Linked DNA regions of Homo sapiens. The protein of the gene in region 1 purifies or fractionates together with the protein of each later gene. This does not show direct contact. Each region holds a gene or a part of one and is shown on either strand. Other genes may lie near its edges. The genes, in order: RNF14, GCN1 and LEF1.

Region 1 (3,654 bases):
TGCTGAAAAGTTTTCCCTCGATACTCTTCAATCTGGCTTCTACTGCTCTATCATTTAACTGAAATGGAACAGGTAACCAATCCCAAAGGTTTTACTTGCAGACAAAAGGCTTTTGTTCACAGTTGTATTACCTTAATTTTTCAATACAATTAATTAAAGAGTTTTCTCAACAATGTTCTAGTTATTTTATCAGTTTACTTTCCTCACATTATTTGGAAGTCTATCTCCCTTTTAAAGCAAAAGACATCTTCTGGTATAGAATCCTATATCCTATCTCCACTCTTTGCTTTCACCTGTGAATTCTTTCTCTGTGTAGTACATTCCCACAGCTTCATCACCTCTACTTCAATGTAGCAGTGAAGCAATGTAAATCTCATCCCTCTAATAATTCAATGCATTTTTGTGTTCCTAGGCATCTTAAGGACAAAGGTTATATTGCTTTAGTCTTCCCAAAATAATAAAATTGTATTTCATATTTTATATAATATATACATACAAAGAGAGGGAGAGATTCCTAATTTTGCTAAAGCCCTGAATCTATCTTCAATTTCTTCCCTGAATGCTGTGAAACACTTGAAATGTACTGTTGACTTTTAATGAAAAGGTTACAGAAGTCTAAAGTAAAGGCTTATATTATACATTGCTAAGTTCTCCATTCCATCTGGCCTTACCTTCTGCAAGGTGCTGCCTGAGGCAACTGAAATTATCTACCCACTCTTTCCTCTCATGGTACTTTCTTGGAAATAATGACAGTCTGCTAACATTAGCAAGTAATAACTACAATAATAATAGCATTAATAATTACTATTTTTCTTTTTCCTCTTTTTTTTTTTTTGAGACAGGGTCCCACTCTGTCCCCCAGGCTGGAGTGCAGTGGTGCAATCTGGCTCACTGCAGCCTCTACCTCCCAGTTTCAAGCGATCCTCCCGCCTCAGCAACCTGAGTGGCTGAGACTACAGATGTGCACCACCACACCTCGTTAATTTTTGTATTTTTTTGTAGACACGGGGTTTTGCCATAGTGTCAAACTCTTGGACTCAAGCAATCCGCCCACCTTGGCCTCCCAAAGTGCTGAGATTACAGAGGTGAGCCACTATGCCCAGCCCCATTCTGCATTTTACATGTATTAGCCCACTGTTTCTCAAACTATTTATGGTAAAGGCCCAGTTTATTTTTTCTCTGATACGTCAAAGATCAACACTTTTATAAGATATAACCAGGTTTGCTTGATTTAATTTTTTTAGAAGCAGAGTCTCACTACGTTGCCCAAGCTAGTCTCAACTGAGGCTCAAAAGATCCTCCTGCTGTAGCCTTCTGAATAGCTAGAACTACAGGTGTGCACCACCACAGTCAGCTAACAATCAATTATTAGAAAAATGAAAAAAAGTCTAAATTTTTATTAGATTTGACATAAAATTATGTGAAATCACTATAAAAGTTTCTAACCCTCTCAATTTCTATATATTATACACCAGTGTAACAAATATAACAATTTTGAATAGCATGATATTCGTTCCCTTCATCCTTAGAATAACCCCGTGAAGTTATTGTTATCTGCTCTAGCTGCAATTTTGTGAGGTAGCTGTTATCATTATCCCTGTTAGTCTGAAGAAGACTAAGCCACCAAAGTCCAATTAAATCGACGTTAAGGGCCTGATTTATGATTCCTTACGTAGACTGGAAACGGCAAACACATTTCACTCCTGTGTCTACTTCATCAGAGGGTAGCTTTCCGAAGTGCCATGTTGAGGAAGATTCTGAGGCCTCTCTGGGCTCAAGGAGAAAGCATTTGATGACTAGTCAAACACATGTGCCATGGAGACAAGAATGGCAGCTTAGATGCCCTGCATTGGCCATCCAGGATCTACATTATTCCATGTTTGTATATAGAATTTCCTGTGCCATTCCTTCTCCTGGAATGTTCCTCCCTGGTATCTGCACGGTTTTTCTTACCTCCTTCAAGTCCTTACTTAAACCATTTTGCCGGTGAGGCCTCCCCTGTTTTCCCTAACTAAAATCCCAAGTCCCCTCCCCTTCAGAACATTTCATATCCTGTCCTTGCTTTATTTCTTCTGCCTCTTCAGCACTTACCACCACCTAATATCCTTATTTTGTTTTCCTGTCTCCCCTGGTAGAATGTGAGTTCCATGAGGGCAGACATTTTGTCTCTTCTGGTCACTACTACAGCCCCAAGGCCTGAGATAGTCACTGACACAGAAATATCTGCTAAATGAATACTTCCAAATTGAAGAATGAAGTCATAAGGCCCTGGTAGTAGAGTGAAATGTGAGGGAGAGACTGGGGATGGGGGTTTGGGTTCACAGTTAAAACATACCTGCAGTCACCTTACATGGGGAGACCCCATGGTAGGTCAACCTGCACAAAGTACAGAAGGCAAAATTGCAGCTGGAGCAGATACCCATGGTGCAGCCAGGTTCCTGCATCACAGGCAGCTGGCAGCACGGCCGGGGGCAGTACACCACATCTGCCATCAGGTCCAAGGAGGACTGGAGGAGAAGGCGGTCATAACGGGCAAATAACTCTGCTTCCACTAACTCTTTGACCTGGAGGGAAATACAAAACACCATAGGTTTGATGATTCCACAACCAGTTCTGAACCTGAGGCGATTCTTAGGATGCTAGTGTAAACCAGATGGGCACATAAATTAAAACCTCTCTTTCACTTCAAAATCAAACCAAGTACATTTTGACTGAGATGACAATTATAGGGGTCTACACATTTGTTAAAACTAAGCAAAGTGTCCAATTTATTTTATATTTTAGTTTTATTTCTTTAGAGATGGGGTCTTACTCTGTCGTACAGACTGGAGTGCAGTGGTGCAATCATAGCTCACTGCAGCCTTGAACTCCTGGGCTCAAATGATTCTCTACCTCAGCTTCCCAAGTAGCTAGGGCAACAGGCACTTGCCATCATGCCTGATTTTTTTTTTTTAAGACATGGAGTCATGCTATTTTGCACAGGCTGGTTTTAAACCCCTAGCCTCAAGCGATCCTCCTATCTTGGCCTCCCAAAGTGCTGGGATTATAGGTGTAAGCTACCATGCTAGCCTTGTATGATTTAAATGTGTAGTTTATTTTAAGTAAAATTATGCTTTAATAAGAAAACAAAAAACTGGCCAGGAGCAGTGGCTCACGCCTGTAATCCCAACACTTTGGGAGGCCAAAGCGGGAGGATCACTTGAGGTCAGGAGTTCAAGACCAGCCTGGCCAACGTGGTGAAACCCCGTCTCTACTAAAAATACAAAAAAAATTAGCCGGGCATGGTGGCGGGTGCCTGTAATCCCAGCTACTTGGGAGGCTGAGGCAGGAAATCACTTGAACCTTGGAGGCAGAGGTTGCCGTGAGCTGAGATCATGCCCCTGCACTCCATCCTGGGTGACACAGCAAGACTCCATCTCAAACAAAACAACAACAACAACAACAACAACAACACCACCACCACCTAAGTAGGCTGTACTTCTGCTGAAGTCTATAAAAAAGTTGGTTAATCATTCTAAGAGACGTCCCCTTCAGATGCCAACCTCACACAAGAATAAGCTAGTGATTCCCCAAGGTTTATGGGATCCTACTAGCAGATATACAAAGTAAATTATCACAATTACTTAATAACTACTTTAACACTCATCCTTGCCC
Region 2 (3,654 bases), on another chromosome or scaffold:
AAGGGACTGGTTTTTATGGCAGACTTCTCAGAACTCTTTGGTTTTGACTCTGTGTGCATCTATGACTATAAAAACAAAAGACATTTTAAAGTTAAAACTACATTATTTATGTAGAAGACAGTTTTGGACATCAGTTTCTTTTATTCATTGCCAATAGAATTATGGCAGGGATTTAAGCACGAAAAACTCAGCATTATTTTATTTCTGTGTGTACGCTTGACTCTTACGCTACTGATAAGGCCTGCCTTTGAAATACCCTCAAAAGAAAAACATGATAACCCCACTGTGTTAAGTTACATGAGCCTTATCATGCCCTGCTCTACGGCTTATGAATCCACAACCTGTCCACTTGGTAGCTTGTAGAATATTGCTCAAGAGCAGATTTTCAGGGATGTTTGCAAACTGCCCCCCATCACTGGGTCTTATGCTTATGTCCCTATGCAGGGGACTGCAGCTGTGGTAACTCGATGGCTGTTGAAAGCTAAAGATTTGTTAGCATCAGTTTATAGACCTGTTTGGTTTCAAAGTTAGTTTCAAAAACGCAGGTGCTGTGGCTCTCGACCCCACTCTGAGCAGTGACTTCCTCTCTTGGAGATGGTTTCTTCATCGCCTATAAAATGGGGATACTGATGCCTCCCTTGCAGGCTTTTTGGTAGTAGTAGCCAACTTTTTGCTTGGGATGAGAGTAGATGCACCTTATACGCAATCTCATTTAAGCTCCATAACAGTCATATGAGGTAGCTGCTATTGTCCGCATCTTATAGATGAGAAAACTGAAGATTGGGGGAGTGACATTATTTGACTAAGTTTCTACAGCTAGTAAAAGGCAGAGCTGGGATCCAATCTCCTAACCTTTCCCCCTTTAGCCAGTGTGCTTATCCTCTGCCAGTGAGTTGCCAGGATGCTGACATTCCCTTTATGGGGAGGTTAAAGTGAGATAATGTAAAGGGAACATAGTTGGCACGTACCAGGCCCTTGCTAGATTTTGGGTAGTTCTGAAGGGATATTTTCTTTTCAGAGGTCTTTGCCTTTCCTCTTATTGCCAAAGTTTAAATAAGGTATATTGATTTGTTGACTAGTTGAATTAAAGCAGTACATCTCAAGTGGGAGTGATTTTGCCTGCCAGGAGACATTTGACAATGTCACAACTGGGGCGGGTGGGGAAGGTGGGCTGCTACTGACATCGAGTGGGTAGAGACCTGGAATGCTGCTAAAAACACGGCCCCCACAACCAGAATTACCCGGTGCAAAATGTCACCAGTGGGGAGGTTGAGAAACCCCAGGTTAGAGAGATCCCCAAATTCTACACCCACCCCTCAACACACACACTCATAGTTTTATAGTCTGACTAGTGAATTTTTCTGTTGCTTGGCCTTCACAGGTTTCCGAGACACTAAAGCGTTTTGCAGGGAAGGTGACAACAGCCAGTGTAAAGGAACGGAGAGAAATCCTCAGTGAACTTGGGAAGTGTGTTGCTGGAAAAGGTATTTATTTTTCATCCACATACCCTGGACAATATTCATTGTTTTTCTTTCTTTCTTTTTTTTTTTTTTTTTTGAGACAGAGTCTCTCACTGTTGCCCTGGCTGAAGTGCAATGGCACGATCTCAGCTCATTGCAACCTCCACCTCCTGGGTTCAAGCGATTTTCCTGCCCTCAGCCTCCCGAGTAGCTGGGATTACAGGTGCCCATATCATGCCTGCCTAATTTTTGTATTTTTAGTAGAGATGGGGTTTCTCGAATGACAGTGTTCCATATCAAAAATAAATTTTGTGGTTTTTTTTGTGTTTTTTTCTTCTTTTTGAGACAGAGTCTCACGATGTCACCCAGGCTGGAGTGCAGTGGCACGCTCTCGGCTCACTACAACCTCTGCCTCGCTGGGTTCAGGCGATTCTCATGCCTTAGCCTCTCCAGTAGCTGGGATTACAGGTGTGCGCCACCACACCCAGCTAATTTTCGTGTTTTTAGTAGAGATGGGGTTTCACCATGTTGGCCAGGCTGGTCCTGAACTCCTGATCTTAAGTGATCCGCCTGCCTCAGCCTCTCAAAATGCCGGGGTTACAGGCACGAGCCACTGGGCCCAGCTGAAATTGCCTTTCTTTAGAACCATGGCCTTGGCCAGGCACGGTGGCTCACGCCTGTAATCCCAGCACTTTGGGAGGCTGAGGTCAACAGATCACAAGGTCAGGAGTTTGAGACCATCCTGGCCAACATGGTGAAACCCCGTCTCTATTAAAAAAAAAAGTACAAAAATTAGCCAGGTGTGGTGGTGTGCACCTGTAATCCCAGCTACTAGGGAGGCTGAGGCAGGAGAATTGCTTGAACCTGGGAGGTGGAGGTTGCAGTGAGCCGAGATTATGCCACTGCACTCTAGCCTGGGCAACAGAGTGAGACTCAAAAAAAAAAAAAAAAGCCTGGGTGTGGTGGCTCACGCCTGTAATCCCAACAGTTTGGGAGGCCGAGGCGAGTGGATCACGAGGTCAGGAGTTCGAGACCAGCCTGACCAACATGGTGAAACCCTGTCTCTACTGAAAACACAAAAATTAGCTGAGCATGGTGACGCACGCCTGTAATCCTAGCTACTCAGGAGGCTGAGGCAGGAGAATCGCTTCAACCTGGGAGGCAGTGGAGGTTGCAGTGAGCTGAGATCGTGCTACTGCACTCCAGCCTGGGCGACAGAGCAAGACTCCGTCTCAAATAAAAAAGGAACCATGGCCTTCTTCCCCCCTCCCTGCACAACTTCTGCCTTTACTTTATTTCCTTGCTATAGTGTGAATTGCAACAGTTAAAACTTTTGGGTTCATGGAGAGTTTATCCATTCAGGTGTGAAAGCTATTTACACTTTTAACCATTTTGTTTGGAAATATTTAAAAAAGATAGCTAAAACCTTTCTCAAGTAGTATACAGAGTACAAAAACTTTTTTTTTTTTTTTTGAGACGGAGTCTCACTGTGTTGCCCAGGCTGGAGTGCAGTGGCATGATCTCAGCTCACTGCACGCTCTGCTTCCCGGGTTCATATCATTCTTCTGCCTCAGCCTCTGGAGTAGCTGGGACTACAGGTGCCCACCACCACACCTGTCTAATTTTTTGTATATTTAGTAGAGACAGGGTTTCACCGTGTTAGCCAGGATGGTCTCGATCTCCTGACCTTGTGATCCTCCCAAAGTGCTGGAATTACAGGTGTGAGCCACCGCGCCCAGCCAAAAACATTTTTTTTATGACTTGGGATATCATTTTTCCCAATCTGTGTTCCGTGGAAGTCAGCACCATGGTAGTAGGTGATTGGCCAATAAAGGATTCCAAGATCAAATAAGTTGGGAGAGGTTTTTTTTTTTTTTTTTTCTTTGGTGAGACAGAGTCTCCCTCTGTCACCCAGGCTGGAGTGCTGTGGCGCGACCTCTGCTCACTGCAACCTCCGCCTCCCGGGTTCAAGTGATTCTCCTGCCTCAGCCTCCCAAGTAGCTGGGATTACAGGCACCTGCTACCACGCCCAGCTAATATTTGTATTTTTAGTAGAGATGGGGTTTCACCATGTTGGCCAGTCTGGTCTTGAACTCCTGATCTCAGGTTATCCGCCTGCCTTGGCCTCCCAAAGTGCTGGGATTACAGGCGTCAGCCACCATGCCCAGCCTAGAGGTCATGTTTTTGATGTCCT
Region 3 (3,654 bases), on another chromosome or scaffold:
TGCTGAAATAAATGAATATTGTAGAGTACTGACTTTTTAGTATATTTGCACAATCTATTGGTTTACATTGTGAATGAAAGATTTTCATTCATTGTGGCCCTGCTATGCTTTTCTTCTGCTTTTTAATAATGCATAATAAATGTAACAGATTCTTGTGTGTTTCCAAAGAATTGCTATCAAATGAATTACTCTTGTCTTGTAAAAACACATTCTGATCCACCCAGTGACATGGAGCACTGGCATCTGGAAGGTCACTCAGGCTGATGAGATTTGGCTCTTCATTTGGCAAAAAAAAAGGGCCTGGAAAGACAGGGACTCTCACCTTGTTTGGAGTTGACATCTGATGGGATGTGTGACGGGTGTGATCCTGGAGAAAAGTGCTCGTCACTGTAAGTGATGAGGGGGGTGAGAGGATGGACCGCATGGGATGGCTGCACCACGGGCACTTTATTTGACTGCAAAGTAACCACAAGGTCAATAGTTAATATGGATGCCCAGCTCCAGTCTTTTCTCCCAAAGAAAAAAATTCACACAGCAGCAGTAACCAGTCATCAACATAACCCAAGAATCACCTTCAGACCTGGACAGGTGGAAATGTCTCTTTTAGAATTTTTCTGAATTTTTCCATGGTAAATACTTCTCAAATATATGAATATGTCACTGATATTCATGAGTTATCAGTTATTTCACCAGTGACTCTTCAGGGATTTAGGTTGATCACTACTCTTCCATATGGCATGAATTTCTGTACATATATATTTATACTCTCTTTTAGATTATTTCCTCAGGTTAAGTCAATAAAGAGCGAATTACAGCAAAATTTATGAATGTTTTACAACATTTGTATTCACTACATATGTCTGGCACAAAAAGCAAAAAACTGTCCAATGAGCAAATAAATGAATAAATATTGCCAATTCAAAGGATAAATTTTTAAACCCAATAAATATAAATTTCCTATACTGATATCCCCTCAGCTTACAGAGTTCATAACTCTATGTTGTACATCTTTAAGAACCATGGTACACCATTCTTTCGAGTTTTATAGCTTTGTCAATCAAACAAGACTAGCCATTATGCTTTGGCCCTCCTCAGTTCATCTTCTGCTTCTCTAGTTTCCATAAACATTAATTGATAAAAAGGAATTTCCAATCTTGAGTTGAACTGCATAATATGAAATACTGTCTTTTTTTTTTGAGATGGAGTTTCACTGTGTCGCCCAGGCTGGAGTGCAGTGGTGTGATCTTGGCTCACTGCAACCTCCACCTTCCGGGTTCAAGTGATTCTCCTGCCTCAGCCTCCCAAGTAGGACTACAGGCACCCGCCACCACATTCAGCTAATTTTTTTTGTATTTTTAGTAAAGACAGGGTTTCACTATATTGGCCAGGCTGGTTTTGAACTCCTGACTTTGTGATCTGCCCACTTTGGCCTCCCAAAGTGCTGGGATTATAGGCATGAGCCACCGTGTCCAGCTGAAATACTGCTTTAATAATATTTTTAATTGTTAAAATTGTATATTTTAACACACTTTATATGTCTTATACTTGTTTACAGACATTTTATTATTTAATTTGGAAGTCAACAGTCACACTTTTTAATTCAAGTTATCTAATTGGACTTCATCAATTTGAAATCTGTGATTACTTTGGTTACAAAGTTAAGGTTGTTCCCCCCAACCCAAAAGTGCTTACTAAGTAATTAAAAAATATAAAGAAGACTTAAGTAGGTTTAACCTAATTAGTAAAATCACTTATTTATTTATTATTTATTTTTTATTGATATGGCATAGCTGTAGAAATTTTGTGGTATATGTGATATTCTGATACCTGTATAAAAGGTGGAATGATCAAGTTAGGATAACTGGGATATCCATCACCTCAAACATTATCTTTCCTTTGTGTTGTGAACATTAAAATTCTTCCCTTCTAGCTATTAAATAATCTATTGTTAGCTACAGTTTCTCTACTGTACATACTACAACTTATTCCTTCTATCTAACCGTATTTTTATACCCATTAACAACTTCTCTAGGGGAATCATTTTAAAGAGACTCAATAAACCCTTCACCAAAGAAAAAGGGACTCAACACAATTATATACCTGTTAAAGGTGTTTGTTTCTGATTTTAAACTAATCTAATAATTAAAGCAGTTGCAGGAAAATCTCTACTTAAAAACACTATAGTAATGGGTAACATGAATTTAAGAGAAAATTGAGCATATCATTATGCTCAATTCACTAGTTCAGACATGTCTTCATCATAATTAGTTTGAATTAGTAAGATCTTACTATATTATTGACTAAAATGCATGTGAAATCAGTTTTCTCCTGAAGCAAATATTCATATTTTTTAAAAATTTGAGGAAGTGCCTAAAACTGCACAATGTGAACTGCTTAAAATGTAAGTCCATATCTGAATGGTTAAAGAGGGCCCCCAAAACACACTTGTGTATGGTGGCTGTACCTACGACATACACTAATTTTGAACTTAATATTTTTTACAAATTAGCCATAAAAAATATGTGGCTCCAATGAGAAGGACTCCCCTTAGAAAAATTAGAATTCTTATACCCTATCTTATAAGAAAAATTAGTAATTCTTCTTATACCCTATCATTACAACCTCCATCCAAAAGAAACTTACGGGGGGGGGAAAAAAAAGGAAAAAAAAATCACACTTTTTTTGGAAAATGATATAATTTCCATACTAGATTTTCCCTATTTTATAATTATCAGCTCTTCTTTAATGGCAAAACTTGCATAGCTCATATAGCTTTTTTGGCGTATATTAAATAGAGTGCCATTATCATAGCCACACAATTTTTCTCTACACACCTCAGCACAAACATCTATGCATATAAATGTGTAAAAGGTTAAACAAATCTTCTAATGCTTTTCGAGTGTTAATGACACAGTTTTCCAAATAACAGAATAAGCTTCTTAAATACATGGAATTTAGAATGCTAGAAGTGGGGGTGGGTAGATGTGAGGATAGGAGGAGTTTATTATGAACTCTTTTGAAAATGGAAACACAAATCTCAACGCCCAAATGTTAAAATCGATAGATTTCAAATATACTTTAGAATAATGGCTTTCAGTTTCATTTTAAAAGTCTCATAAATAAGCATAATTGCCAAACAATCTACAAAGATATTTTCTTAGGGTACTTATAAAGAGTAAACACTGTGGAAATCTTCTGGATATATTCTTTCTTTCCAGAGCACCACCTTAAGGAACTTGCATTAGCAGGCAGCATCTTCTTAATGTCTGACCTATCCCTCCAGTCATATAGCTCAGAATCTGGTGCCATGAATTTTTGCTAAATTATGCTATCCTTGCTCTCCTCTTAATTTTACGGTTTTCAACACAGATTTGCTTTCCTGTGGGAAAGAGATAAGAAGCCGAGGATTTTAATTTAAGCCTGGCCTTGTCTTATATTTTGCAAGATGGATAGCGAAAGCAGTACTAGTAGGTGTGTTAAAGCCAACAAGGATTATGTCCATTTTTGTGGCCAAATAATAAAAGTAATATGAAATTTCAATAGCATGTGTGAGCAGAATTCCAAGGGTTATGGTTTGCTTCCTGCCAACCATCTCCACTATGTATATAAACAGAACAAAGTGGATTCCAACTTACACTGCGGATATGTGGCACA

The links.
Region 2: the proteins of RNF14 (region 1) and GCN1 purify together in Homo sapiens (affinity purification with western blotting; one study listed by BioGRID). This does not show direct contact.
Region 3: the proteins of RNF14 (region 1) and LEF1 purify together in Homo sapiens (affinity purification with western blotting, with the first as the bait; one study listed by BioGRID). This does not show direct contact.

The regions. Positions count from the first base shown.
Region 1 is NC_000005.10:141,979,033-141,982,686, reverse strand, and holds part of RNF14 (E3 ubiquitin-protein ligase RNF14), read right to left. Parts: intron 2,565-3,654; coding exon 2,336-2,564; intron 1-2,335. UniProt on the Homo sapiens protein: E3 ubiquitin-protein ligase that plays a key role in the RNF14-RNF25 translation quality control pathway, a pathway that takes place when a ribosome has stalled during translation, and which promotes ubiquitination and degradation of translation factors on stalled ribosomes.
Region 2 is NC_000012.12:120,188,128-120,191,781, reverse strand, and holds part of GCN1 (stalled ribosome sensor GCN1), read left to right. Parts: intron 1-1,381; coding exon 1,382-1,484; intron 1,485-3,654. UniProt on the Homo sapiens protein: Ribosome collision sensor that plays a key role in the RNF14-RNF25 translation quality control pathway, a pathway that takes place when a ribosome has stalled during translation, and which promotes ubiquitination and degradation of translation factors on stalled ribosomes.
Region 3 is NC_000004.12:108,088,803-108,092,456, forward strand, and holds part of LEF1 (lymphoid enhancer-binding factor 1), read right to left. Parts: intron 456-3,654; coding exon 323-455; intron 1-322. UniProt on the Homo sapiens protein: Transcription factor that binds DNA in a sequence-specific manner. Participates in the Wnt signaling pathway. Activates transcription of target genes in the presence of CTNNB1 and EP300.